Regions from separate parts of the Homo sapiens genome. Here region 2 is linked to region 1. Evidence: fine-mapped expression QTL. A gene starts in region 1. The other region holds a variant in brackets. All regions are shown on one strand. Distances are from middle to middle.

What was found. PIP is the estimated chance that this variant, and not a neighbour inherited with it, causes the effect.
Region 2: its variant is the best candidate, but not a certain one, in a credible set for the expression of CCDC57 in whole blood (TOPMed, PIP 0.54).

Annotation. Positions count from the first base shown.
Region 1 is chr17:82,207,115-82,221,852 of GRCh38, reverse strand. CCDC57 (coiled-coil domain containing 57) reads left to right here and starts at 9,011. Exons shown (of 19, transcript NM_001394669.1): 1 at 9,011-9,068. It also overlaps a transcript of SLC16A3 not described here. RefSeq lists enhancers at 5,105-5,384, 6,446-6,740, 7,658-8,600 and a silencer at 8,551-9,470.
Region 2 is chr17:81,985,869-82,000,606 of GRCh38, reverse strand. It overlaps ASPSCR1 (ASPSCR1 tether for SLC2A4, UBX domain containing), which reads right to left. Exons shown (of 16, transcript NM_024083.4): 5 at 5,729-5,786; 6 at 4,542-4,615; 7 at 3,761-4,187. Among named protein-coding and RNA genes, the nearest start is that of ASPSCR1, 16 kb to the right of the region's middle. RefSeq lists enhancers at 5,877-6,584, 8,713-9,420, 10,131-10,840. The variant G/A (reference allele first, on the strand shown) is at 7,907.

The DNA of each region.
Region 1 (14,738 bases):
TATGTTGCCCAGGCAGGAACTCCTGGGCTCAAGTGATCCTCCTGCCTCCGCCTCCTGCCTGGCTGAGACTCCAGGCCCGTGCTGCCACACCAGCCCTGTTTGTTTTTCATTAAAGCCGTGCTCGTGGGTGTGAAGTAGTATCTCATGATGGATTGGATTTGCGTTTCTCTAATGACTAATGATGTTGAGTATCTTTTCATGTGCCTGTTGGCCATTCTGTATCTTCTTTGGTATTGGGTTGTCTTTTTTGTTGTTGTTGTTTAGTTTCATTCTCTTTTATGTTTGGAACAGGGTCTTACTCTGTTGCCCAGGCTGGAGTGCAGTGGTGCGTTCTCAGCTCACTGCAGCCTTCACCTCCCGGGTTCACACGAGTCTTCCCCGCCTCAGCCTCCCAAGTAGCTGGGACGATAGGCAAGCACCACCACCACACCCAGCTAATGTTTTTGTATGTTTTTGTACAGACAGGGTTTCACCATGTTGCCCAGGCTGGTCTTTGAACTCCTGAGCTGAAGTGACTCGCCTGCCTCAGCCTCCCAAAATGCTGGGATTACAGGTGTGAGCTGCCGTGCCCGGCCCTTTGTTGAGTTTTACATGTTCTGGGTATTAAACTCTTAACAGATATATGGTCTGTATTTTCCCCCATTCTGTGGGCTGCCTTCACTCTCCTTTGATGCACAAAATTGTATCTTTGTTTCTTATGTTGCTTGTGTTTTTGGTATCATATCAAAAATCTGGGCCAGGCACAGTGGCTCACACCTGTAATCCCAGCACTTTGGGAGGTTGAGGTGGGCAGATCACTTGAGGCCAGGAGTTTGAGACCAGCCTGGCCAGTAGAAACCTGTCTCTACTAAAAATACAAAAATTAGCCCGGTGTGGTGGTGCATGCTTGTAATCCCAGCTACTCGGGAAGCTGAGGCACGAGAATTGCTTGAACCCAGGAGGCAAAGGGTGCCGTGAGCTGGGATTGCGCCACTGCATGCCAGCCTGGGTGGGTGACAGAGTGAGACTCTGTCTAAAACTAAATAAATAAATTAAATTAATTAATTAATTATGCTTTCTTCTGAGAGTTTTGTGATATTAGCTCTTATGTTTTGTTTGTTGATCTATTTTGCATTGATACTTATAAACGGTGTGAGATAGGGATCCAGCATTATTCTTTGCATGTGGATATCCAGTTGCCCCAGCACTTTTGTGGAAGAGATCTTTACTTTCTTTTTTTATTTACTTAAAAAAAATTTTTTTTAGATAGAGACAGGATCTCACTGTATTGGCCAGGCTGGTCTTGAACTCCTGAGCTCAGGTGATTCTCCCACCTCCACCTCCCAAAGTGCTGGGATTGCAGGCATAAGCCACCATGCCTGGCCGGAATCTATTACTTTCCTAAGGACAAAAATCAGTGTGATCAGCCTGCTTCCATGTTTAAGCTGGAGTGGGTGTGCCAGGCAGGGGCTGCCTGTGAGGCCAGAGGTTGCCCTGGGTCTCCCCTTCCCACTCCTGGGGTGGAGTGGAGCCCTACCCCAGCCCCTTGGCCCCAACATTCAAGCCTCAGCAGGCCAGGAGGTCATCAGCTGGAGGCCTCAGTGGTAGACATGGAGCAGGAGGCAGCTCTCCTGGGCACTGGGGGAGGAACAGCCTTCCTTGGCAAGAAGGTTTTGGGGTGGCCGTGGAGCCCAGCCTAGGGTGTCCAGGCCACACTGGGCCAACAGAGACAACTCTGTCCCAGGATCGGGGTGGCAGGTGGCTGGATGGGTGGGGACACTGCCCTCTCCTCTTGGCTCAGCCCTTTGGAGGCTGGGCAAAGTGTGGCCCTGAGAGCCCCCCCAACCTGCTGTGAAAGGGCCCCCCCGGCCCTGAGCGTCCAGCATCCTGGAGTGCGTTTTTTCGCCTTTCTCTGCTCCACCTGCCCTGTGTCCCACCCCTGCCTCCTCTTGAGCTGGGGGCTGGGGGGTCAGGGTTTCCTCTGCCCTCCTTGGAGCCCACGTCGGCCCTGGGTCTGCCATGGAGGCAGGACTGGAGTGTGGAAGGAGAGGAGTCAAGACTGGAACTCAAGGCTGGGTGGGAACAGCGCAGCCCATGCTCGCCTGTAGCCACCCTTCTCAGCGCAGACCCCCCGCCTTTCAGTGCAGCCCCCCAGCCCCCTCTTTGCACCCTTTGGCCTGGCTGCTCCTCCCCAAGTCCGAGACTGAGAGGCGGGGCCAAGCAGTGGGGGAGCAGTCCAGGCAGGGGCCCCAGAACCCCCTGCTCAGGGGCGGCCACCGGCACCTGGGAGGCGGTGGGGAAGGGCCCCATTGGTCCCCCTGCCAGCTGGGGCCTCCAGAGACACAGCAGGCCCAGGGAGCGAGGCCTCTGGCCTGCGAGACCCTACGGGCGGCCACTGGCTCCTGGGGAGCCCCCACGGCCTGCAAGTGCCTGGGGGTGACCGGACCTTCCCTGCTGTCTAGGGGAGGGTGACTGGGACAGTGTCACCCTCACCGCACAGACTAGCTCCTCCCCCGCCCCTTGGAGATGGGTGGGCACCTTCCCAGGTGGCACCAGCAAAGTGTGCTGCTGCCCCACACCCCCTCCCTAGGCCTCCAGGCCAACCCCCAAGTGCCTCAGACCTGCAGGCCCAGCAGGGCTCCATCGCTGCCCCGGCCTCCAGGCCCTGCCTGGTCCCGGGTGTCCTCCTCTTCTGCAGCTTGGGGGCTTCCCTGCATCTCCTGAGCCCAATGTATGGGCCCCATCCCTGCTCCTCTCCTCCCTGCCCACACCTGCCTGGGGTGGCCCCATCCACTCTCACGGTCCTTAGGAGCTTCCTCTCACGGTAACCCCGAAACGTCCTAGAGCCCAGACCCTCCGAGACCCTCAGTCCTGCTGGGCTCACACGGGGCTGCCTCAGCCTTTCTCTCCCTTATCCTCAACCCCCATGTCCAGTGGCAAGTCCCGTGGTCCCCAAGCCCTAGCGGTGCCCCCGGCGGCTCAGTGAGCCATTGGCATCCTGGTGTCCTGCCCACCCCAGCGCCTGGATGGAACAGATGCAGGTGAGTGACGGGCTTCGGGAACAGCCAGTGCCACCAGCCTGGCCCCAGGCCCTCGTCCCTGCTGCCCGTTCTCCACGCACAGCCGGAGGGTACCTTCTGCCCTTCTGCCGTGGTCAGCACCAGCCTGGTTTATGCTCTAGCCCTGGCCGGGCCTCTGTCCTCTCTTCCTTGGCCTAGAACATCATTCAGGTATCACCTGCTTTGGTGGTCCTGGTGCGGCCTCCCTGACCAAGCTCCACCTGCACACACCCTCGGCACCTTACACATGGCTCCTTCAGGGCTCTGTGCACCCCTGCGCTATTGACAGCTGCCTTCTTCCTGCATTTCTCCTCCTCCAGTGACCTCCTGGGCTCGCCTTGGCCGTCCACCCCGCAGTGACCGAGGCTGGGCTCCCCTTGGCCGTCCACCCCGCAGTGACCGAGGCTGGGCTCCCCTTGGCCGTCCACCCCCCCAGTGACCGAGGCTGGGCTCCCCTTGGCCGTCCACCCCCCCAGTGACCGAGGCTGGGCTCCCCTTGGCCGTCCACCCCGCAGTGACCGAGGCTGGGCTCCCCTTGGCCGTCCACCCCCCCAGTGACCGAGGCTGGGCTCCCCTTGGCCGTCCACCCCCCAGTGACTGAGGCTGGGCTCGCCTTGGCCGTCCACTCACCAGGGTTACCCAGAGCTTGTCATTGCTGGGACTGCAGCTACCCTACGTCTCAACCTGGAGCATCCCAGGTCGAGGAGCAGAGGTCACCACCTGCCAGCCCCTGCTGTGGCCTCGTGCCCAGCCCCAACCTGGCACATGGAGGCACAGGGAGGTTCTGAAGTGCCCTTGGCCTTCACCAGGCCAGAGCCAAGGACATGAGGACAGCAGCCAGGCTGTGGCTAGAGGCCTATGGGGCCGGGGGCCTGGGGAGTGGGGCCGGGCTGTGTGGCAGGATCTGTGCCTCTCGCCTGAGGGGGAGGGCAAGGCCTTGCCCAACCTTCCTGTCCGGCCAGGACCGCAGGCCCCGCAGCCAGTGACTCAGCACTGAGAACTCAGTGGAACTTCCTGGGGGGTTGGGGAGGGGCATGGGGCTTCTGACAGTGCCTGTCCCTTGCCCCTTGCCGCAACACTGGCTCAGGAACCGCTGTTTTCACACTGTCGGCGGCCGGGGTCCAGCCCCGTCCCTTCCAGAGGCCACGTGAGCCCCTTAGCTTCCCCAGCCTCAGTTTCCTCACTTTTACCCCAAGACAGGAGGACTTTGTGGTCTCTACGTGACGTGGTTACAGTGTGGAAATGCCGTGTGTCCCCCAGGGTCCCCCCAGCTCCCTCAAAGCACCTCCTGCTCACAGGCTGCTGTCCCTGCAGTGGACAAGGCAGCCGAGGAAGGTGGATGCCGGGGCACCTTGGCTCCTCTCCTTCTGGACGAAGCCGGCCTTGGGAGGACAGCCTGGCTTGGAGCCCCCTTGGGTGCCCACCCACTGGGCAGCACGGCCTGTTCCACACCAGCCTCGAGGGAGCATCCCCTGGTCCTGCCCGTGTCCACACCAGGATCCCTGGCAGCACTGGCCCTGCCTCCAGGTCTTGACCTCCAGGAAGTGGCTGTGGTCACGGCCGCTGTGGGGCATGTCTGACGCCGCTGTCCGGCTCCTGGTCCCATCTGGACAGTGCCAGTCTTGCTGGTCTGTTCCTGGAGGGTCTTCCTGTCCAGAGGAGCCTCCCTGCCTCCAGCCCTCAGGCAGGAGTCAGTGCCCACCCCCCTCCTCCTGGAGCAGCCAGACACTGAGGCCCACTCACACCCACCAGGCCCTTTCATTTCTTGGCTCCTCTCTGGCCTCAGGACCTGGGAGCCAGGCAAATGGTGCCCATGGTCACCCTTTCAGCTGAGCCACACGCCCGGGTGCCCCAGGGACAGAGCAGGGCGTGCCACAGGCACTGGCCAGATCCAGATCGGAGCAGGGCCCGCCCACACCCACCGGGCCCTTTCATTTCTTGGCTCCTCTCCTGCCACAGGGCCTGTGAGCCAGACAGATGGAGAAGTTGCCTCTGCAAGTCTGACGTGGGCATTCCCCAAACCTGAGAGGAAGTGGCTTGCTCTGGCCCATGCAGGCTGGTGCCCAGGCGGGGGCCCCCGCACCTCTTGTCCTGGATCCCTGTGCTTTTAGGGCCCTGCAAGAGGCCTGGAGGCCTCAAGCAAGCAGCTTTTGGGGGCTCCCATGGTGAGGTCTGCCACCAAGGTCAGTCTGTGTTCTGGGAAGCAAGAGCCTCAGCCCACACTTACGCCCTCAGCCATGGCCTTCTGACCTTCCTCTCACCCTCCCTTGTTTACCCCACTCAGTGACATGCGGCTGCCTGACACCCAGATGTGTGTCTGGGTGGGTGGGGCATAGGTGCCAGGAACGCAGCTGGGAGCAGGACAGCCAGTTCCCCACCCACCTTGCTCTGCCACAGAGGCATGGGAGGGTCAGGTCCTGGCCGTGTCACTCACCGGGGCACCAGGAAGGGCCCTCGGCCTCCACTGTCGTGGCATGATGAGGGTGGTTGCAGGACGGCCTGGGGGAGCCAGCACTGGGGGCTGTCAGCCCCACACAGGTCCAGGGCTGAATGGTGGTCCCCAAAGAAATAGGATCCAGTCGTAGCCGCTGGTCCATTAGAATGCGGCTTGGGAATAGGGTCATCGCCGACGTAATTGGCTGGGTGGTCCTGCTCCAACGTGATGGCGTCCTAAGAAGGGCAGCACATGGAGACAGACACACAGGAGAAGCCGCATGATGGTGGATATAGGGGCGGGAGGGGGCGATGTGGCTGCAGCCAAGGGTGCCGAGGCTGGAAGGGTTAGGTGCCTGTGGTCCCAGCTACCTGAGGCCAAGGTGGGAAGGATTCTCCCATAGGGCTTTTGGAGGGGCCATGGCCCGGCCGACATCCTCAGCTTTCCTGAACTGGGAAAGAAGAAAGGACCAGTTTGGGGTTCTTTGTTTTGGCGGCCCAGGCCCTGGCTCACACCCTGTCTGCCTTCCACCTGTGAGTCCTGCTGGGTGCTGGAGGCCAGGAGTGAAGGGAATGTGGTCTCCCTCAGCCAACTCCCGGCCACCCGCACTGAGGGTGCCCAGGTGGAGCCCAGCTGGGGAGCTGGGCAGGGAAGGAGGGGGAGGGGTTCTGCAGTGTGGGGGGGGCAGGGAAGGAGGGGGAGGGGTGCTGCAGTGTGGGGGGCAGGGAAGGAAGGGGAGGGGTGCTGCAGTGCTGGGGGGATTCAGTAGGTGTAGCCTCGGGCCTGAGCTGACGGCGGGCGCTCTGGGACCGTGGAGCTCAACCCAACGGAACGGCCCTCGAATCAGAGCACAGGCTGTGAGGGCCAGACCGGCCTGCCCCACAGCTTCAGGAACCAGGCAGTGCCCGTGGCACACCCTGCTCTGTCCCTGGGGCACCCGGGCATGTGGCTCAGCTGAAGGGGTGACCATGGGTGCCATGCTGCTGACTTGGGCCAGCACACGATTCCAGGTCCAGATACCCATGACGTGACAAATGACCTGCTAGGGCCGCATAACTCAACACCACAGCCTGGGCGGCTTAAACGACATTTATTTTCTCACTTCCGGAGTCTGGATGTCAGGGATCAGGCTGCCGGCAGGGTGGGTTCCTCCTGAGGCCTCTCCATGGCTTGCAGACGGCACCCTCTCCCTGCGTCCTCATGTGGCCTCTCCTCTGTGTGCTCACTCCTGGTGTCTCTTCCTCTTCTTTTAAGGACAACAGTTCAGGGTCCCACCCTTAGGACTCACGTAACTTTAATTACCTTCTTAGAGGCCCTATCCATAACACATAGGTTTAGAGGGTTTTTTTTGGAGACAGGGTCTTGCTCTGTCACCCAGGCTGGAGTGCAGTGGCGCGATCATAGTTCACTGTGGCCTCGAAGTGCTGTGTTCAAGTGATCTTCCCACCTTGGCCTCAGGTAGCTGGGACCACAGGCATGTGCCATCACACCCGGTTAATTTAAAAAAATTTTTTTTGGCCAGGCATGATGACTCACACCTGTAATCACAGCACTTTGGGAGGCCGAGGCAGGCAGATCACTTGAGGTCAGGAGTTTGAGACCAGCCTGGCCAACATGGCAAAACCCCATCTCTACTAAAAATACAAAATTAGCTGGGCATGGTGGCAAGTGCCTGTAATCCCAGTTACTCAGGAAGCTGAGGCAGGAGAATCGCTTGAACCTGGGAGGCGGAGGCTGCAGTGAGCTGAGATCACGCCGCTGAACTACAGCCTGGGCAACAGAGCGAGACCCTGTCTCCCGAGCTCAAAGGATCCTCCCTTTGGCCTCCCAAGGTGCTGGGTTCACAGGTGTGAGCACTGTGCCCGGCCCACACATGGGTTCCCATAGATCCCACTTTACAGGCAGGGACACTGAGGCATGCAGAGCCGGGATACAGACCAAGCAAGTCCTGGCTCCTCTTCTGGGTGTCCCAGCCCGTCTCGGACACCCACGCTTACCCAGGCCTGGTGGCTGCATCGTGGACATGGGGGCAAGGCAGCTCTCTGGGTGGGCAGAGGCAGGAGCTGAGGCAAGGATGTGGGCATCCTTTTGGGTACATCTAGTCCTAGAGCTGATCCAGGGGCCAGTCAAATGTGCAGCCAAAGTCGGGTCAACCCCAGCACTGTCCTGTGGGTGGGGGTAGCAGGGAGCCAACAGTCCAGGCCCTACATCCTGTTCTAATAGAGTGACAAGTCTGATGAGGCTGGGGGTGCACAAGCACTGAGAAGGCAGCAGGACAGGGAGCCAAACACATGGGGTGGTGGGGGAAACCAGGGAGCTGGACACAGGGTGGGGGGGTCCTGGGAGTTGGACACATGGGCCAGGTTGGGGGTCCAGGGAGCTAGACACAGGGGGTGGGGAGGGGAGTCCAGGGGACTAGACACAGAGTGGGGGGTGGGTCCAGGGGGCTAGACACACAGTGTGGGGGGTGGGTCCAGGGAGCCGGACATACACATGGGGTGGGGAGGGGGCATCCAGGGAACCAAGTCTAGGCAGAGGCAACTGGCGCAAAGGACCTGAGGCAGAAGAGGGTTTGGTGTGTGAGGCGGGACTGAGGACTGTGGGCGAGGGAGACAGCTCTACCAGGACGCATGGTTCGGGGAGGACAGGCTGCAGGGTGCCTGGGCTGCAGGCACGGCACGGAGAGGAGTGATCCAGTGTTAACAATGTGGGTGGAGGATGACACCAGACCCCTGGCTTATTGCCCCACCAGGGGAATTCCCAGACACCAAACACCCCCTCCACTCCCACGCAGAATTGCGGGCTGAGGGTTCGGGTGAGCCAGGCTGCTCTGTCCCGGGGCCGGGCTCTGTTCATCCATCCGCAGATGGATACGGACACGTGCCTTTTTCTGAGGATGTGAATGGTTGGGAATGGCTGTGCCTGAGGATGTTGTTCCCACAGGATGGTGGGGGCGACTTCGGGCCTCGGTGGGTCCCGACCCCCCTCCTTCCCCCAGTTCCCTAATCAGGGTCTGAGCGACCGCGCGCACGGCCCCTGGGCCCCGCCGGTCTCCGAGCCCGTGGGCAGCGCCGGGAACTCGTGCCCCGGTGGCCGCAGCCGACCCTTAGGCAGGACTTCGTGGCGCCCCCGGCCCGAACAGACCCCCACGGGCAGCCTCGGCCGCCCCGTGCTCCCTTCATCTCAGGGCAAAAGCTCAAGTCAACCCTTCGGGACCGCGAGCCGGGCGGCCTCAGGAAGCGGGCGCCTGGGGACCCTCGGCCGGGCCGGGGGCGGCGAAGGTGGGGGCGCCTCGCGCGGCGGAACCCGCCGTCCCCATAGCCCGGAGCCCCGTCCGGAGTCGCCCCGCTGACCGGTGAGGAGGCCGGGCTCCCTCCTTCGATCTGCGGCGGTGGTCGGGTCGGCCGGGGCGCCCCTCGGACCCGGGCGCAGCGCGGAACCCGGCGGGGCGGGAGGGGCCGGAACCTAGCGCCAGGGACCCCGTTTCCTGTCGGCGGGACCCGAGCGCTGCACCGAGCGCAGCCGGACGCGGCCGACTGACCCGGTCGCTGTGGCAACGCGGCGGGACCTGGCCAGCGCTGCTGGCGGGCGTTAGGGTGAGGTGCGGGCGGGCGGCGTGGGAGGCGTGGGAGGCGTGGGGGGCGCCGCTCCGACCACTCTTCCTGTAGAAAACCCCAGCAGCTGCCGTCCTGTCGGACGCAGCGCTTTGGTGGGGACCTGGAGCGCGAGGTCGACCCTCAGAGCTCGGCCAGGCCCGGACCGGGGATCCCCTCGCGGAGGCTGCGGCGGGGCGGGGCGGGGGTTGCGGCCGCGTGGAGCGGGAGCGTTCCCTCGGTCTCCCGTGGGTGACCTGGGGCGGTGGGCGCTGCCGACCAGGGCCCCGCAGCCCCGGGAGAATTCCCCGGGTTCCGCCGCCGGCAAGGACGGCTCCGCGCCCAGGCAGCCTTACAGTGTCTGTGAGTTTAAAAAAAAAAAAAAAAAAAGAGAGGAAAAAAAAAGGCCGGAGGCGGTGGTTCGCGCCTGTAATCCAGCACTTTGGGAGGCAGAGGCGGGCAGATTGCTTGAGGCCCGGAGTTCGAGACCAGCCTGGCCAACATGGTGAAACCCCCTCTCTACTAAAAATACAAAAATTATTGGGCGTGGTGGTGCACGCCTGTAATCCCAGCTACTCCGGAGGCTGAAGCAGGAGAATCGCTTGAACCCGATGTTGTAACTGAGGGAGTTATAGAGAGAACGCCACACTCTGAGACTACTCAGGAGTCCTGTATTGCCAGCGACTGACAGACTGCTAGAGCTGCAAATTCCCTCGGCCCCGAAGAAGGGGCTAGATTTCTTTTGATACCTTGGTCTAAATAGAGGAGGGGAGGCTAGCTGAAGCGATTTTTTTACAGAAGCAGAATAGGCAAAAAGTTAAAAGATAAATGGTTACAGAAACAGTTACAGGAAAATAAACAGTTCCAGGTACAGGGGCTTAAATTATCACAAAGTGATAAACGCAGGGGCTTTGGGTACCATCAACCGAGCGCGTTCCCAGGAGCTGCTGGTACAGCTTGCTCCAGTTTCTTATCAGTATTTTATCAGTAAGCGCATTCCTGGATGTGCTTGGAGTCAGCTTGCCCCAGTTATGTCCTTAAGGGACGGGGACAAGGGGCTGCAAGCGAAGAAACCAAAATGGTGTCTGTCCGGCCCTCTCAGCTAAGAGAGAGTCAGTCAGGTTAAAACAAAGTAGGGTACCACACCGAGAGGCGCAGGTTGCGGAGAGCCAAGATCGCGCCATTGCACTCCAGTCTGGGAGACAAGAGCGAAACTCGGTCTCAAAAAAAAAAAAAATTATCTGTAACTTAGAAAAAGGATACAAAAGGAGCACAGATTTCCCGTGTGCCTTTTGCCCAGAGCCCCTAGAATGCTGACCTCTTAGAGAACCACAGTTCATTCAGCAACATGTAGACGCTGGCGTTCATGTTGGTATCATCCCATGATCTGGTCTCCAGTATTTATTCTTGCTTAGCAGCTACCTCATGGATGACTTTACCGTGGTCCAGGATCCAATGATGAGTCCACTATTTTATAAAATGCCCCCCAGTTCGGGGGCATTTCTCTGATGTTTTGTCATAATTGATTTCATATTACTGATTTTTGGCAAGAAAACCTCAACAGGGAAATTGTGCCCTTCCCAGCGTCTTACGAGACACAGGATGCCCCTGGCTGTTGGTGCTAGTCACGTCCTGGGGGCTGAGGTGGTGTCTGCCAAGTGTGTCCATAAAGTTAGGGTCCTTCCCTTTGTAAATAATAAATATTTTGTGGGGAAATATCTTGCCACTATGTAAAAGATGATGTTTCTTTCTTTCTCTCTTTTTCTTTTTTTTTTTTCTTTTTTTTTTTTTTTTAAGACGGAGTCTCTCTTTGCCGCCCAGGCTGGAGTTCAGTGGCGCGATCTCGGCCCACTGCAACCTCTGCCTCCTGGGTTGAAGTGATTCTCCTGCCTCAGCCTCTCAAGTAGCTGGGATTACAGCCGCCCACCACCACCCCCAGCTAATCTGTGTATTTTTAGTAGAGACGAGGTTTCGTCATGTTGGCCAGGCTGGTCTCAAACTTCTGACCTCAGGTGATCCACCACCTTGGCCTCCCAAAGTGCTAGGATTACAGGTGTGAGCCACCGTGCCCGGCCTTTTTTTTTTTTTAATTAATTTTATTTTTTTGAGACTGAGTCTCTCTCTCTCTCGCCCAAGCTGGAGTGCAGTGGCTTGATCTCGGCTCACTGCAACCTCTGCCTCCCGGGTTCAAGTGATTGTCCTGCCTCAGCCTCCTGAGCAGCTGGGATTACCAGCGCCTGCCACCATGCCCGGCTATTTTTTTTTTTTTTGTATTTTTAGTAGAGACGGGGTTTCACCATGTTGGTCAGGCTGGTCTCGAACTGCTGACCCCAAGTGATCCGCCCGCCTTGGCCTCCGAAAGTGCTGGGATTACAGGCCTGAGCCACAACGCCCAGCAAGATCTTGTTTCTAACCATACTTCTGTCACTAATTTTAGCACCCATGAGTGTTTCCCCAAAATAACTGTTAATGTGCTATTTGTTAAATGATTTTTCTGTTTCCATTACTCCTACATTTATTAGTTGGGATTTTCCTATAAGAAAGAACCATCTCTTCCCAGGCTGGCTTGCAGGGGCGCGGTCTCGGTGTTAGTGCATCTTTTTATTCCATGGATTCTAACCCATCGCTATCACGTACTTTGTTGCTCACATTATCCAGATTGAGGTGTTAGGAGCCCCTTCAAGTTGGCCTCTCTGTCCTTATAGCACGTCCCAACCTTCTGGGAGCATTTTCTTTCTTTCTGGCATCACAGAATTCAGGCTTATCTTATGCTTGCCTTGACATATCCCAGAATCAGTCATTTCTCCAAGGAGCCCTGGTTCCTTTTAGTTTAGAAGGTAGTGTTTAGAAACCAAGATCCCAGTACCAGATAGACATATTGCTACTGGGATGCCATTTCTTCTTGGCTTTCTTAATGGATAGAGTAGGAAACGTGTTTCTATACACTATACACATGCAAATCTATTTCAGTATATCTGTGTCTCTGTATATATTAAAAACTGGCTGGGTACAGTGGCTCACGCCTGTAGTCCCACCACTTTGGGAAGCTGAGGGGGGAAAATCGCTTGAGGTGAGGAGTTGGAAACCAGCCTGGCCAACAAAGTGAGACACCCATCTCTATAAAAAATTACAAAATAAATTAGCCAGCCATGGTGGCGTGTGTCTGAGTCCCAGCTACTCTGGAGGCTGAGGTAGGAGGACCATCTGAGCTCAGGAGTTTGAGGCTGCAGTGAGCTATAATCATGCCACTGCACTGCAGCTCGGGTGACAGAGTGAGATCCCATCTCAACAAACAACAAACACCAAAAAAACCTGTGAGTTTATTACAAGTTACGCACTTGTAATCAAGTTAGGTTCACCTGTTTCTACTTCATTTTGAGTCCTTACTGATTTTAAGTTTTTTTGTTTTTTGTTGTGCTTTGTTTTTGGCACATGAAACATGTATACGTGGTTCTAAAAGTCCGCAAAGTCTAAACTCAACTACAAGACTTCGACTTCAACTTCTATTTCTCACTTACTCACTTTTTTTTGGCAAATGCACGTTCAAAGAAAACAGCCCTTCATGTTCCTTCGTGGTAGTGGTGCCCCTCTTCTCCAGCAAGTGCCACTGACAGAATTCAGACCTACTGCCCATCTCTCTTATTTCAGTTTTAGAAATGGCTGTGGCTACTCTTCGGCAGTCAGTGGAGGAAGTGAAAAAAAACACGGGGTCACAGGTACATAATTTTTGTCCCCTGGACCTATTTAAAGAGTAGATGAGAGGCTGGGTGCAGTGGTTCACACCTATAAGTACGTGGGAAGATCGCTTGAGCTGTAGCTTTTAGATGGGCATTCGAGGCTGCAGTGAGCTGTGATTGTGCCACTGCACTCCATCCTGGGTGACAGACTGAGACTCTGTTTCAAAACAAAAGAGTAGATTACTGAATTTGGCCTCCCAGAGGGCTTAGCAGCACTCTCTGGAATCCAAGAGGGGCCACAAGAGCTAAATTCAGTACATTTAAAGGTGAGAGGATCATTTGAGGCCAGGAGTTCAAGACCAGGCTGGACAATATAGTGGAACCCCATCTCTACAAGAAATTTAAAAAAAAAATTAACTGGGCATGGTGGTGCCTGCCTGTAGTCCCAGCTACTCAGGATGCTGAGATTGAGTCCTCTGTCCTGAGTACAAAGTGAATGAGCCACCCCAGACCTGCCTTCCAGTCCCAGGAAGTGTCTTATAAGTTAAGGGTATTAGGCCAGGCACGGTGGCTCACGCCTGTAATCCCAGCACTTCGGGAGGCCGAGGCGGGTGAATCACGAGGTCAGGAGTTCAAGACCAGCCTGGCCAAGATGGTGAAACCCCATCTCTACTAAAAGTACAAAAATTAGCCGGGCATGGTGGCGGGCGCCTGTAATCCCAGCTACTTGGGAGGCTGAGGCAGGAAAATAGCTTGAACCCAGGAGGTAGAGGTTGCAGTGAGCCAAGATCGCGCCACTGCATTCCAGCCTGGGCAAGAAAACAAGACTGTCTAAAATAATAATAATAAGTTAAGGGTATTAAATATATTTATACATGGAGGTCATAAAAATATATATATTTGGGCTGGGCGCAGTGGCTCACACCTGCGCCCGGCCCTTTGGGAGGCCGAGGCAGGTGGATCACCTGAGTTTGGGAGTTCCAGACCAGCCTGACCAACATGGAGAAACCCCTTCTCTGTGTATTTTTAGTAGATTTTATTTTATGTGTATTTTATTCACAGGTATTTCTGGAAAACTCAAACTGTTTTTCCTCTACTCTGATACCACAAGAATCATCAGCACAGAGGAAGACTTCTGTGATCAAATGTGGTGGGAGAGGGAGGTTTTCACCAGCACATGAGCAGTCAGTTCTGCCGCAGACTCGGCGGGTGTCCTTCGGTTCAGTTCCAACACCGCCTGCCTGGAGAGAGGTCAGACCACAGGGTGAGGGCTCAGTCCCCAAGACATAAACACCCAAGACATAAACACCCAACAGGTCCACCCCGCCTGCTGCCCAGGCAGAGCCGATTCACCAAGACGGGAATTAGGATAGAGAAAGAGTAAGTCACACAGAGCCGGCTGTGCGGGAGAACGGAGTTCTATTATGACTCAAATCAGTCTCCCCAAGCATTCGGGGATCAGAGTTTTTAAGGATAACTTAGTGTGTAGGGGGCCAGTGAGTTGGAGATGAAAGCGTAGGGAGTCGAAGGTGTCCTTTTGCGCCGAGTCAGTTCCTGGGTGGGGGCCACAAGATCGGATGAGCCAGTTTATCAATCCGGGGGTGCCAGCTGATCCATGGAGTGCAGGGTCTGCAAAATATCTCAAGCACTGATTGATCTTAGGTTTTACAATAGTGATGTTACCCCAGGAACAATTTGGGGAAGGTCAGAATCTTGTAGCCTGTAGCTGCATGACTCCTAAACCATAATTTCTTTTTTGTTTTTTTTTTTTTATTTTTGAGACAGGGTCTCACTCTGTCACCTAGGCTGGAGTGCAGTGGTGCAATCACAGCTCACTGCAGCCTCAACGTCGTAAGCTCAAGCGATCCTCCCACCTCAGCCTGCCTGGTAGCTGAGACTACAAGCGACGCCCCAGTTAATTTTTGTATTTTTGGTAGAGGCAGCGTTTTGCCGTGTGGCCCTGGCTGGTCTCGAACTCCTGGGCTCAAGTGATCCA
Region 2 (14,738 bases), 220 kb after region 1:
ATGGGAAACTTGGAAACTCTTTTTGCTTACTAAAGTGTACCTTTGAAGTTCCCCAAAAAAGTTCTGTTTTGTTCCCTTCTCCCCTCCCCCCATCACTGAAAGGGACCCAGCAGCGGCATGTGGCCCCGGGCCCTCTGCGTGTGCGGCTGGCGGCGATGGGAGGCGCGGGGCAGGCAGGACGCCCTCCATCAATCAGCTGCCCAAGTCCCAGATCAAAGGCCCTCAGCACGCCATGCAGGCCAGGCACACGCTCCCTCCCCTGGACCCCTCCTGCCAGCCAAGACCCCACCCCAACAGCGCCTCCCGACGGGCGAGCACGGGCGGGCACTACTCTGGGCTGCGAGCCCCATGCTCCACGCCCCACGCTCTGCAGACAAGACCCGCCCTGGTCACGGAGGGAAGGGGCTGAGGCCCACGCCTCTAGAATGGGGGAACATGACAGCCACTGTGTCTCTCACACTGAGGGGTCCCCACAAGAGCAGGCCTAGAGGGGGTCAGCCCCTGCTCACCCGGAGCACACGGGTCGAGGGGCACGAGCGCTTCATGGGGACTCAGGTGTCACAGTGCAGAGTTTGGCAGAGTTCCCAGAGGGAGGATGGGGTGCCAACACCATCATAGTCCTAGAATGGACCCAACACCCTCACTCCCCACTCCCTTGTCCACTCAACAGGAACAGTCCCAGGACAGCCAGGGGGACAGAAAACAGAGGGGCTGGACCCTGACGCCGGGCTAGATGGGAGCCCCCACATCCAACACGGTGCAGACGCCCGGCCTCTGCCCTCCCAGGTGTGTGGCCGGGAGGCAAGAGGGAGGCATGAGGTTGCTTCACTCAGAAGTGGCCAGAGGAGGAGGAAGCAAACTCCTGACCTCACCTGAGTTCCGGGACACGTAGCACGAGTGCCCAGGGGACAGCCGAGGCCGGGGCCATGTGCACAGAGCCCTCCTGGCCACTTCTTGTTTTCTTTTTTTTTTTTTTTTTTGAGATGGAGTTTCACTCTGTCACCCGGGCTGGAGTGCAGTGGCACGATCTCGGCTCACTGCAACCTCCGCCTCCCGGGTTCAAGAGATTCTCCTGCCTCAGTCTCCCGAGTAGCTGGGATTACAGGCACCTGCCACCACACCCAGCTAATTTTTGTATTTTTGGTAGAGACAGGGTTTTGCCATGTTGTCCAGGCTGGTCTCAAACTCCTGACCTCAGGTGATCTGCCCACCTCGGTCTCCCAAACTGCTGGGATTACAGGTGTGAGCCACCATGCCACAGGCCCAGACACAAATATTTTAAATGTCCACAGGAGATGGAGGCATGGGGGCCTTCCAGGCCCACTACGTCAGCAGGAGCTCAAGAAGCTCTGACCTGGCCCCTGGGCTGTGGCTGGCAGCTGGCAGCCTGGCCCTCAGGGGACACAGGGGCTGGGAAACAGCCTCCTCCCATCCCTGTCACCGAAAGCCGCATGACAGTCCCCCAGTCTGCCTCTTTTGGCACAAAACCCATAAATGCCACGAACACCTTAGTTCTGCAGGTGAGGAAGCTGAGGAAGTCAGGTTTCAGCAGCCCAGGTGCAGGGCTCTGATGCGGGGTCAGGACAGGGACAAAGGAAAAGTCAGCCACAGGGCCAGGGACCCCACAGACACGAGGTCCCCACGGTTGGGGGGAGGCGTGAGGGAGAGGGTCAGGCCACAGCCACACACAGGCATGCTCGGAGGTCAGCACCTGGCCGCCTGCCTGCATGCACTCCCCGCCAAGGGCCCAGTGCCCCAGTGGTGGGTGTAGTCTGCAGTGAGCAGTGGCCATAACCTTCGGAGAACTTCCAGAACCCAGAAAAGAGGGGCCACTGCCCAGCTCCCTTGTGAGCCAGGTGAAATTCGATTCCCAAACTGGATGAAGACAGAGCAAGGAAAAAAAGTCTGTCTCACTTATGAACACACATGCACAAGCCAATAAAATAAAGCATACGGTCATCTCCATTGATGCTGAAAACACTGAAACGGTTCAACACCCACTTAAGATTTTTTTAAATGTCAGAAAGTTAGGAATAGTAACTTTCTCTGCTTGATAAAGGCTTTTTATAGCACACATCATCCTTGGCAGAGAAATGACTAGTAATTCCTGTTACGATCAAGACAAGGAAGGATGTCTACTAAGATCGCCACGATCCAAAAGCACCAGAGGCCCATTCGCTGCAACACAGGAAGAAAAACGATGAGAGGACAAAGGGAAAGGTCTGCAGAGGCCCCGACAGAAACCAAGACGCCACTAGAACTAGCAAGGAGTCAGCCAGTCAAAGATGTAACAGGAAGCATGATACTATCCACAATATTATAAAAAGTAACTTTCAGGCCTGGTGAGGTGGCTCACAATTGTAATCCCAGCATTTTGGGTGGCTGAGATAAGAAGATCGCTTGAGCCCAGGAATTCGAGACCAGCCTGGGCAACAGAGAGAGACCTCGTCTTTATGAAAAATAAAAATAAAAATAAATTAGGCTGGGCGCGGTGGCTCAAGCCTGTAATCCCAGCACTTTGGGAGGCTGAGGCGGGCGGATCACCTGAGGTCAGGAGTTCGAGACCAGCCTGGCCAACATGGTGAAACCCCGTCTCTACTAAAAATACAAAAATTAGCTGGGCGTGGTGGCACACGCCTGTAGTCCCAGCTACTTGGGAGGCTGAGGCAGGAGAATCGCTTGAACCCGGGAGGTGGAGGTTACAGTGAGCCGAAAGTGCGCCACCACACTCCAGCCTGGGCGACAGAAGCAAAACTCCATCTCAAAAAAAAAAAAAAAGTGGGTGCCTCAGTAAAGGTGGTTTAAAACCAGAAAAAAGAGCTGGGCGCGGTGGCTCACGCCTGTAATCCCAGCACTTTGGGAGGCCGAGGTGGGTGGATCACAAGGTCAAGAGATTGAGACCATCCTGGACAACATGGTAAAACCCTGTCTCTACTAAAAATACAAAAAAATTAGCTGGGCTTGGTGGTGCGCGCTTGTAGTCCCAGCTACTCGGGAGGCTGAGGCAGGAGTAATCACTTGAACTTGGGTGGCAGAGGCTGCAGTGAGCCGAGATCGCGCCACTGTACGCCCACCTAGGGACACAGTGAGACTCTGTCTCAAAAAAAAAAAAAAAAAAACCCAGAAAAAAAAAAATCATTTGCCTGAGAAGCTAAGAACAAGCCCAGTGACCCTGCTCAGGTAGGAGGTGGGGCTTGATTCCAGACCAGATTGAAGACTGGCTGATGCGTTCACCAGCTCCCCCTTCCCTGGCCATAACCCGGAAGTTACCACCCCTTTTCTAGAGATTTCTGAATGCCCCACCCCTTAACGTGCATGTAGTTGAGTGGATGTAAATGTGACCACGGCCATGCCCTGAGCTGCTGCCCTCCATGCACCACCCCAGGGCGGCCCTGCTCTGTGCCACACATCACGGAGCCAACACGGAGCTGACACAGTTGCCGCCTTGTCATGGAGCCAACACGGCCTCATCCCGGAGCCCACACGGCCTCATCCCGGAGCGGACACGGCCTCATCCCGGAGCAGACACAGCCACCGTCTCAGTAAAGCTACTTTCTCTACCACCTGCTTACCCCTAAATTCCTTCCTGGGCGAAGTCAGAAGGCTCCTGTCCAGAGCCCCGCGTTTGGGTTCCTCTGCGCGTTTGGGTTCCTCTGCCCGCATCACGGCCACGCCACCAGGCTGACCAGCTAAAGCCACGCAGGGCTACACATCAGGAGAAAGGACACCCCCAAGTCCCAAGGCCTAGAGCCCCTTTTACCCGCTCCCGCTCCTGCTCCTGCTGGGGATCCCGCTCCCGCTCCTGCTCCTGCTCCTGCTGGGGATCCTGGCCCGACTTGGACTTCTTTGGCTTGGAGGGGCCTCCAGGGCTGGAGAGGGACTTCGGCAACTTAGCTGAAGATGATGTCAGAGGCCTCGTGGGCCCAGGAGGGCCCCCCAGTCTCTGTCCCCCACCCGAGAAAGGAACAAAGGGGGCAGCTGCGGGTGCCCTTGTGCTCTGCTTCTCCTGAGTGTGCTCGCAGCAGGGCCCTGAGGTGTCCGCGTCCTCCGGACGGCTCAAGTCGCCGCGGCTGAGCTCCCCAGATTCCAAGGGAAGTGGAGCGCTGGCGGCTGCCTGGCCAGCCGACGCTGACGAGCCCAGGCTTCCTGGGGTCTTGCCCACGGGGTCGTAGCACTTCATGACAAACCTGAGTGGGGCCAGAGGACAAGGGAAGCACCTTGTGGTGCCTACCCCCGGCTCACCCTCTCCCGGCCCAGGCTCACCCTCTCCCGCCCCCGGCTCACCCTCTCCCGCCCCCGGTTCACCCTCTCCTGCCCCATGCGCCCTCCCAAGATCCACCGCCCCTCTGGGGGACACAGAGATGAGGTCGGGGCAGCCCAGCCCCCACGCCCACAGGCAGGCAGAGGCCACCAGGCGCTCTCCATGATGAGGGCCTGGGTACACCTACTCCCCACTTGCCACGTGTCCTTTCTCCTTTCCTTTGAGACCACTTTTTTTTTTAGCTAAATAGACTCCTCGGCCCCAGCAGCACTGCCCTTACCTGATGGTGGCGCTGCCCCCGGTCAGGCCCAGCGACTGCAGCGTCGTGCCCCGCAGGGCAGCTTCACCCGTCACCTGCAGGAGGAGCAGCCAGGACAGGTGCGCCTTGCACCGGGACCCCAGAGCCCAGGGAAGCCCTCCGGGCACCGGCACCACCAGGACCACAGGCCACGTGCCCTCTCTGGCCTCCATCCTACCCACCCCCCACATCTGGCCCCTGCCGGTCCACACCCTCCACAAGGCCCAGCTTGAGTCTGGTCTGCAGCCGGGGCAGGACCTGCTGCCCATGCCTGACCGTGTCTCCCCCAGCCTGGTCTCCGCAGCTGGGACCCAAGCTCACTGAGGCCTGGGCTGGCAGAGCTGGGCTGCAAGGAGGAAGCCCTGGTGCCAGGACCCACTGCCCGGAGCGAGAGAGGCAGGAACGTGCTGTCACCCACGGGGGTGGCCATTCCTGGTGCTCAGCTCGGGGTGGGCAGGGATCGGGCCTGGCTGGCCACGTCCCATACGCTAACTCTGACCTGTGAGGAAGGGGTGGAGAAGCTGCCTCTAGCGAGGGCACAGTCAATGGCCCAGCACAAAAGCCAAAGGGTGTAAGGGTCCCTGAGGGCCACAGCCTCAGGACAGTGCTGGGCCTGGGTCCTGAGCCCCGTGGCTCATCCCCTCAAGGGAGGACGTAGACCTGAACCTCCCCGTCACAGCCCCAGCCAGGGAGCTTCCAAATGGGGATAAATGCGGGGAATGTCCTGGCCCCCCAGGGCCCCTCCGGGCCAGTGCCCCCCCACCCCAGCAAAGGGCACTCAGCCAGCGTGGAAACAAAAGGCCCCTGTGAGGCCAGGGACGAGCGCTAGGAGGGTCCCGCCACGGCGGGCTTTGCTTGCGCCACGCCACACTCGGTTTTGAAAATGATCAAAACACCGAGCAAAGCAAATATTTATTAAATGAAACCACTTTTGTGACTCTTGGGCTTTGAGAGAAGCTGAAAAAACAAACAGGGCGCCGAGGGAGGTTTCGGGGCAGCCCGGGCTCCGAGGGCCGGCCACTCCCTCTTTTTCCATGAAACACGTCGTGCTTTCAAGAGCCCGAGTCTCCCGCCACTGCCCTGGAGACGGCTGCGGGACAGCAGATTTTCCAGTTGGAAAGTGGGCTGAAAGTGAGCGGGGACTGGGTGAGCAAGAGCAGGCCGCCTACCTCATCCCTCGTGTACACGCAGACTGGGGTGGCCCCGCCGGGGTGCTGCAGGCACTCCCTGGGAGGAGAGGAAAGAAACCATCAGGTACCCCAGGGCAGCTCAACCAGTGCCACGGAGGCCCTGGGGCAGGAGACTCGGAAAGCAAAGGTGTGGGGCCCTCACCCAGCACCCACCCAGGACAGCGTCCCAGGCCCAGGCCCAGGCCACAGACCTCAGCCCCACTGCGCCCCACAACCACCAAAAGGAGGCACCTGACAGCCGGGGGCGCTCCCAAGGACCCTGGCCTGTGGTGCGTGGCCTGGGGGCTCCCCCCGAGACCTCCAGTCTCGGGGCCGCTGGCAGGACGTGGAGCTGCCGGCAGGGCCCAGGGACCGCACAGGAGGGGCGAGCAGCACTGGCTCCGGAATGCGGCTCACGGACACCTGTACTCAGGAGCCTGAGAGTCAGGGTACCGACGTCTGGGCTTTCATCTTAAGCCGCCCACTAAGAGGAGGTGCCCCTGTCTCCACCGCCTGATGTCCTCCTTCAAAGCCGACGCCTGATGTCACCGAAGCATGGAGGGAGGGGCGCTGCACTCCGCTCACGCCCGCTTGCCTGTGGCCGGGGAGGCCGTGCTTATAAGTCCATGTCGGACTCTGCCACCAGTGTCTTTCTGAGCCTCGCCCCGCAGGAGGCACAGCTGGACCCGTGCATGGGTGGGCAGGTATATGCAGCACGCCTCCCACACATGCCTGATGTGCATGGCAGCCCGGGAGACGGGCACATGCCGTCACATCCAGCCCCAGAGCATGTGAACTGCTGGTGGCACCTGCTGCATGAGGCGGGCTTGCCTCTGCGTTTCCAACTCCCCACCGTGAAATCCTCCCCACTGAGAAAAACAAAAGCCCTTCTCAGGCCTTCCTTGCAGATGCCCCTCATCAGTCCCTCTCCAGGGAGGGGAATCCGAGAGGAGGGGGCAGATGGCCAGAGCCTAGGCAAAGGGGAGGCCAGGGCCGGCCTCAGGTCATGCAGGTGCCCTGCCAGGCCCTATGGCCAGTGTGCCTTGCAAGGGCTCAGGTGGGACAGGAAGACACAGGCTGAGCTGGTGACCAGAACACAGGGGATAAAGATTAGGTAACAGCTGGGCTGGAAACTGCTTGCAGCAACCCTCCGGGATGGGGGGTACTGGGAGGGTCAGAGGGCAGGGTGCTGCAGTGTCCAGGTCGAGACATACGTGCACATCCATGCACAGAGCGGGATGCTGGGACAGGAACTCTCGGCCTCCGCCTGAACCCACCTGTGTGCTTACAGGGCCGCAGGGGTCCACTGTGCACTCACCGTGCCCCGACCCTGGGATCTGCTGACCTACTTGAAAGAGCAGGACTCAGCCGGGCGCGGTGGCTCACGCCTGTAATCCCAGCACTTTGGGAGGCCGAGATGGGCGGATCACGAGGTCAGGAGATCGAGACCATCCTGGCTAACACAATGAAACCCCGTCTCTACTAAAAATACAAAAAATTAGCCAGGCGTGGTGGCGGGCGCCTGTGGTCCCAGCTACTCGGGAGGCTGAGGCAGGAGAATGGCGTGAACCCAGGAGGTGGAGCTTGCAGTGAGCCGAGATCGCGCCACTGCACTCCAGCCTGGGCGACAGAGCGAGACTCCGTCTCAAACACAAACAAAACAAAACAAAACAAAAAAAAGGGCAGGACTTGCCTCCCTGAAATGAGAACAGACCAAGCAGAAAAGCCCAAGGTGCCACACCCAGGACAGGCCCAGCCCCGACACCTGGGGACTCGGCCACGTGTGTGGGTTTGACGTGTTTTCTTTTGTTTCGTGGCCTTTATTTTTCACGTCCTCAATCCTGGGGGAGGGGCATCCCTTTCCCACCCAGGCCCCGACTCTGACAGCCTGGTCTGGCTGCAGAGGCCCCACAGGGTCGTGGACTTAGCCCCATGGTCTCCCTGGGTCCACTGCCTACAGGGGAGCCCCTTCCCCAAGGGCCTCTAGCCTGTGGAGCACGTGCGCACCACACACACGGCGGGTGTCCTCTGCGCACAGGCTGGGACACACTCCCTAAGCTCCCGTCCCACAGAGCAGCCAACAAAGGGCCTTGGATTTGCCTTCCCTCCAAATGGCTGGAGACTCGGCCCAGAGGCCCCGAGACGCAGGGCTCAGGAAAACACAAGGCCTCAAAATGC[G/A]CCGGAGCAGAACCCGGACAGAGGCAGAGAGAGGCCTCAAGGAAGCACAGCCCCCAGGGCCAGGAAGGGGGACAGGGAGGGCCCAGGGTCCCCGCTCCCCAGCATGACACAGATGGCCAGGGGTCCGGAGATGGTCATGAGGCCACTTCTCTACGGCTGGGGAGGCCTGGGCTGAGGGGTGGCCAGAGTCCCAACTCACAGTCCTTCCCCGGCACTGACCGCCAGCTTGGGGACCTCAAATCACAAACAGGGACAGAGCACAGCAGCGTGACATCAAACGCCAGCCCGGCTTTGATGTGCGGCTCCTCCAGAGGGATCAGATTCCCTCCCTCATGCGGGATCTCAGGGAGGGGTGGTGGGCAATCGGTTCCAGACCTTCTACGCCGGCCCAGTGTGCAGGACGCCAGGGCCCGGGGGAAATTCCAGCGCCCGAGGAGACACAGCCCCTACTCCCCCTCCCCCACGCAGACCTCTGCAAGTCCCAATGTCCGCAGGGGCAAGACCCAGGGCCTCCCGGGGACCCCAGGCCAGGCCAAGCCACCAGACACCATGCTCCGAAGCCAGAAATGCAAGAAGTGCTTTGGGGCGCTTCCGCGGGTGCCTGCTCGCAGCAGGGTACTGGCACACTCTCACACACTCTCCAGCCAGCAGAGCTCCCCACCCGGCCAGGGCCAGAAGCCAGCGGGACGGCCAGGAGGGCAGACACGCCTCTGCTGCTGGCTTCGAGGGCATATTCTTTATGCACCACAAACCCCGCCCCGCTGGGGCCCCGCTCCGGCAAGGCGCGGCTGTGTGCTGGGGACAAGGCAGTGAGTCTAGAGCTCTCTGTGTTCATGTCCTGTCTGGGTATGACAAAGCCGGGCGCAAACACAGGTGCTGACGAGAGCCCAGGCAGCAGCATGCGCCCTGCCGGGAACAGAAGCTGTGGCTGCAGGCCAGGAGCCACTGGGCTCAGGGAGGCCCGCAGAGGGCATCACCCACCACATGACAGCCCAGCCGCCAAGCGGCTAGACAGAGCCTGGGAGAGCCTGGGGCAGGCTCCGGCCTTCTCAACCCAGCCAGGTCCAGACAGGGATGGACAAGGATGGACAGGGATGGACAGGAATGGACAAGGACGGACAGGGATGAACAGGGACGGGCAGGGATGGACAGGGACGGGCCGCAGAGCTCTGAGCTGGCCCAGCAGCATGCACAGACCCACCCTGAGTGTGGCCACAGGCCAGTGCTCCACCTGGCAGAGCCCTGTCCTCACCAGCAGCCCATCCCTACACCCCAGCACACCCAGAGGGCTGCAGAAATCACCCAGCTTTCCCGGAGCCACGGCTTTACCTACAGAAGGAGGAACAGGCTGAGATGCACTCAGCCAGCCCCCAAGCACTGAGTCAAGGCTGGGAGCAGAGGGCTGGGGGCCTGGGAAGAGATCCAGCCAGGGGCCGGGCACACTGGGGGCCACTCCCACCTGGGGTGCCCACGCCAGCACAGCCCGGGGGCACCTCTGAGAGAGGACAAATCCCCTCCATGGCTGAGCTCATGAATCTGATTTACAGAAAGCCCACCCTGCTCCCTCACGGTCTTCAGATGGAAAGCGGCTCAGCTGCTGTGTGAGTTCCCACGGCTCACCCTTGGCATCGTTCCACGGCAGGTCTCGGTCACCCACAACAGTCCCCGGTTCTCTTCCTGCTCCCAGCAGCTCAGCATGGTCCATCCACACCCCTGCCTTTCACCACTTGGCAACTAGGTCCTTACGGGACGTGGGATTCAAACTACGGGACTCGCCCGCCTGCCCTCGTGGACTGCCCAGACGTGCTACAGTATCCCCCGAGTCACAGTATGACCTCCTGGGGCTAGTGCCTGCTGGCTCTAAACCCATGGAGAGAAACTCCTCATAGGAAACCCGTTAGCATAACAATCTGTACCCCAGCAAAGATGCTGGTCAGAAAGGTACTCCCTTTCCTCCTCCGGGTGCCTCCAGGAGGGCCGTGTACCCCCAGGGCCCGTAGGCCATGAAATCCTCATTTCCATCTCATGCGTCTCCTATCACGGAAGGCACACTCCCCGTAATAAAGATCTCAAACTAGACACAGGCCCACCAGGCAGGCAGAGAGCAGTGTCCCCCAGAGCTCGGCGTGGAAGATCCCAAACTCAGACACAGGCCCACCAGGCAGGCAGAGAGCAGTGTCCCCCAGAGCTCGGCGTGGAAGATCCCAAACTCAGACACAGGCCCACCAGGCAGGCGGAGAGCAGTGTCCCCCAGAGCTCGGCGTGGCTGTTCACACCCCTCTGTGCTGGGCAGAACCTTCAGACTATAGGGAAAATGGGAAAGCTCGAAGCCAGCAGTGTGCAGCCTCTGTCTCCTGACGCCCTCCCTGCAGCAGAGCCTGAGAAGCAGAGTGGAGAGCGCCCAGTCCACGAGGACCCGGCCCAGACCGAGATGCTCCAAGTGCACCATACATGCAGGTCTCAAGGACTCTGCACAACAAGAGCATGAGACGGCTCACTTTTCTACTGACTACGTGTCCAGGAAGTCGTATTTTGGGTATACTGAGTTAACTACACGTATTACTAAAATTAATGACACCTGTTTTTATTTCTTCTTTAATGCGGTTACAAGAAAAAGTGAGTGATTGGCCAGGTGTGGTGGCTCACGCCTGTAATCTCAGCACTTTGGGAGGCCGAGGCGGGCTGATCACCTGACCAGCCTGGCCAACATGGTGAAACCCTGTCTCTACTAAAAAAAATACAAAAATTAGCCAGGCGTGATGGCGTGCGCCAGTAATCCCAGCTACTCAGGTGGCTGAGGCAGGAGAATTGCTTGAACCCGGGAGGCGGAGGTTGCAGTGAGCCAAGATCGCACCACTGCACTCCAGCCTGGGTGAAAGAAAAGAAAATGTGAGTCACCTCCATGGCCGACGTGTGGCTCGCTGGTATCCCTGAGGCCCCTGCTGCTTGAGACGCTGGTCGGGCCAGGGCTGCGTGCTACAGTGACACCCTCGCAGTGGAGCTGCAACGTTTCAAACACGTGGCAGTGTCCATCCAAGGAAATCACCCAGGGGTCCCCAAATACACAAAGCAGGCTCTGTCCCAGGGCAACTCCTGGGCACGCTACAGGCCTGCAGCCCCCAGCCTCAGAACGCCCCTTCGAAGCACAGCGCCTACACTGTCCCTGGACTCAGACCTCCTCCGAAACACATGAAAGAAGAAACATCAGCTTCCCGCCCGTCCCACTCTGCGGACACCTGGACTTCCCAAGGCCTCCCCAAGCCTCCTGGGCCAGTGCAGGGACACTAGGCACGAGAGCCTCCCTCCCTCATGCAGACCTGCTGGGGACCAGCTCCCAGCAGAGAGCCCACCAGGCACTCCACCCTCACCGTGGGGCTGGCAACGCCACCCACTATGAAACCTCGTCCATATCCTGCTCCATGGTTAGCAAACTCCAGCTTCTGGGACAAAGCTTGGGTCTGAGCTTTTAGAAATTTATTTAATATTTATTTCTGAGACAGAGTCTTGCTCTGTCGCCCAGGCTGGAATGCAGTGGTGTGATGTCGGCTCACTGCAACCTCCACCTCCTGAGTTCAAGTGATTCTCCTGCCTCAGCCTCCCAAGTAGCTGGGATTACAGGCCCTCACCACCACACCCAGCTGCTTTTTGTATTTTTAGTAGAGACGGGGTTTCACCATGTTGGCCAGGCTGGTCTCAAACTCCTGACCTCAGGTGATCCATCTGCCTCAGCCTCCCAAAGTGCTGGGATTACAGGTGAGAGCCGCCATGCCCGGCCTGGAAATGAAATGTGAAGAAGCCCTATCTTAAATTCCACCTCTGGAATTTAGCCCACAGGAGAAGCTGGGGTGGGTGACCAGGTGCAAAGGCCTCCAGCTGCACACTCTGCTGCAACCCTGCCCGGGATGCCCTGAGACACAGCCAGATGCCCCGCAACACCCACATGACACCCACACGACGGAAGAGCATGGCTGTGAGGAGTGACAGGTGCGGGACCCTTCAGGAAGATGTCCACAGCATATTCACCAGCAACAACAGTCAGCCACAAATCACTCTCCACCACAGGTGTGAGTGTTCATCAAATGAGGTGTACGTGCAGACACACCCGCAGACAGACCCACACTGCCACACAGACCAGGGCCGCAGGCTGGGGGCTCCGGGCTTTACCACCAACGGCCCCACCACCTCCTGCTGTCCCTGGTGTCTCGAAAGAGCTGCCCCACTTGCTCTTGTTTTTTTTTTTTTTTTTGAGACGGAGTCCTGCTTTGTCACCCAGGCTGGAGTGCAGTGGCGCAATCTCAGCTCACTACAACCTCCGCCTCCCGGGTTCAAGTGATTCTCCTGCCTCCTGAGTAGCTGGGACTACAAGCATGAGCCATTGCGCCCAGCTAATTTTTGTATTTTTAGTAGAGATGGGTTTTCACCATGTTGGCCAGGCTGGTCTCGAACTCCTGACCTCAGGTGATCCACCCACCTCGGCCTCCCAAAGGGTTGGAATTACAGGCGTGAGCCATCACGCCCAGCCACTTCTGTTGTTTCTTTTTTTTTTTTTTTTGAGACAGAGTCTCGCTCTGTTGCCCAGGCTGAGTGCAATCTTGGCTCACTGCAACCTCCACCTCCTGGGTTCAAGCAATTCTTCTGCCTCAGCCTCCTGAGTAGCTGGGACTACAGGAACCCACCACCACGCCCGGCTAATTTTTGTATTTTTAGTAGAGATGGAGTTTCACCATATTGGCCAGGCTGGTCTCGAACTCCTGACCTCGTGATCCACCCGCCTCAGCCTCCCAAAGTGCTGCGATTACAGGTGTGAGCCACCGTGCCCAGCCTTGTTGTTTCTTTTGTTTTTTTGTTTTTTTGAGATGGAGTTTTGCTCTTGTCACCCAGGCTAGAGTGCAATGGTGCGATCTCGGCTCACTGCAACCTCCTCCAAAGCGCCCAAACCCACCCCCACAGCCACCACCAAAGCCAGCTCCAAAGCCACTTCCAGAACCACCACGCCTGGCCAAGCCTGTTGTTTCTTAAACTAAGTTTCACACGAGGTTTACAAAGTCTGTTGAAGAGGCTTATGCTACCACAATGCCGGCCCCACCTCTCCAGACACCCTCGGCCCCTCCCCAGTGGCAGCCCCAGGCCACTCTGGGCCATTTCCTTACCTCCATCCCCATCTGAGGACTGACAGCACAGCCAGGGAGGACGGCCCTCACCAAGCACCTGTGCCTGTGGGAGCACTGGATTCTGTTCACGCCCGGGGGCACCGCCCGGCCCAGGGGCATTTCCTTCCAGACGTTCATCTTTCCTGACTTCTGTTCCCCGCGCTGTTTGGTTTTCTTCTTGCCCTCTGCCACTCTCGTCTCAGGAAGCAGCACAGAGCCAGGGCGCCGGGATCCCTGCTTCTCACCCAGTGCCCACACAGCGCCTGGGGCTGCCTGCCTCCCTGCCCGGCGCCACTCCTGGCTCGGGTCCCGCTCACCCCTGCCCGTGGCTTCGCTTTGCTCTCAGGCTCCGTCATCTCCTGCCTCGGGTCCCGCTCACCCCTGCCCGTGGCTTCGCTTTGCTCTTAGGCTCTGTCACCTCCTGCCTCGGGTCCCGCTCACCCCTGCCCGTGGCTTCGCTTTGCTCTTAGGCTCCGTCATCTCCTGCCTCGGGTCCCGCTCACCCCTGCCCGTGGCTTTGGCTTTGCTCTTAGGCTCCGTCACTGTTGTCTGAGTTCCGTTTTGGGAGGGAGAATTCCGTGCTCGTGCTTAACCCGCTGCCATCTCCAGGGGCCTCCATTCACCCCGACAGCCACTGGGGTGGCTTCCATCCCCATGACCACTGAGACCCGACGTGCAGACCTCAGCGCTCTCACCCACGAACGCAACACCCGTGCCATGCAGCGCGGCACTACTGTCAGACGGGAGCAGGCCCAGCCCTGGGGCCACCAAGCGCGCCCAACGCACAGTCACCTTCCCAGCGCCCGACGCGCGGTCACCTTCCCACAGGCCCTATGCTCGGTCCTCAAGACATGAACTCACCCCATCCACACACCAGCCGGGGCACAGGTGAGGAAACTGAGGCCCGGGGAGGGCGAGAACCCCCTGGCTCACAGCAAACCCCAGCCCCAAGTCCCTTCCATTCTGCTGAGCCTTTTACTGTGGACAGAGACTTCCAGCCAACGATGAAAAGACCCAAATTGACAAAGCACCAATTTTTACACATTCAGGAACAACGTTTAAACCATTAACCGACAGAAACTGATACACATCAATTACTTATTTTTATTTATTTATTTTTTTGAGACAGAGTCTCGTTCTGTTGCCCAGGCTGGAGTGCAGCAGTGCGATCTCGGCTCACTGCAACTGCCTCCACGGCTCAAGTGATCCTCCCACCTCAGCCTCTGGCATAGCTGGGACCACAGGCACGCACCACCATGCACTATGCCTGGCCTAACATTTCTATTTTTTGTAGAGAAGGGGTTTCACTATGTTGCCGAGGCTAGTCTTGAACTCATGAGCTCAAGCGATTCGCCAGCCTCGGCCTTCCAAAGTGCAAGCCACTTTGCCCAGCCACTGTGCCCAGCCACTGTGCCCAGCCATCCAATTACTATTAGGAAGATTTTCTGGTGGGGCACAGGAGCTCACACCTGTAATCTCAACGCTTTGGGAGGCTGAGATGGGAGAATTTCTTGAGCCCATGGGTTCAAGAGCAGCCTAGGTGACCAACATAGTGAGACCCTGCCTCTTAAAAAAAAGAGACCTTATGATCCCATCCAGGGGAATCAAGCATGGGGAGCCCTGCCCCCAGCACCGAACGTCTCCCCTTAGTGCTCACCAGGCCCCCACAAGGACAGAAGCAC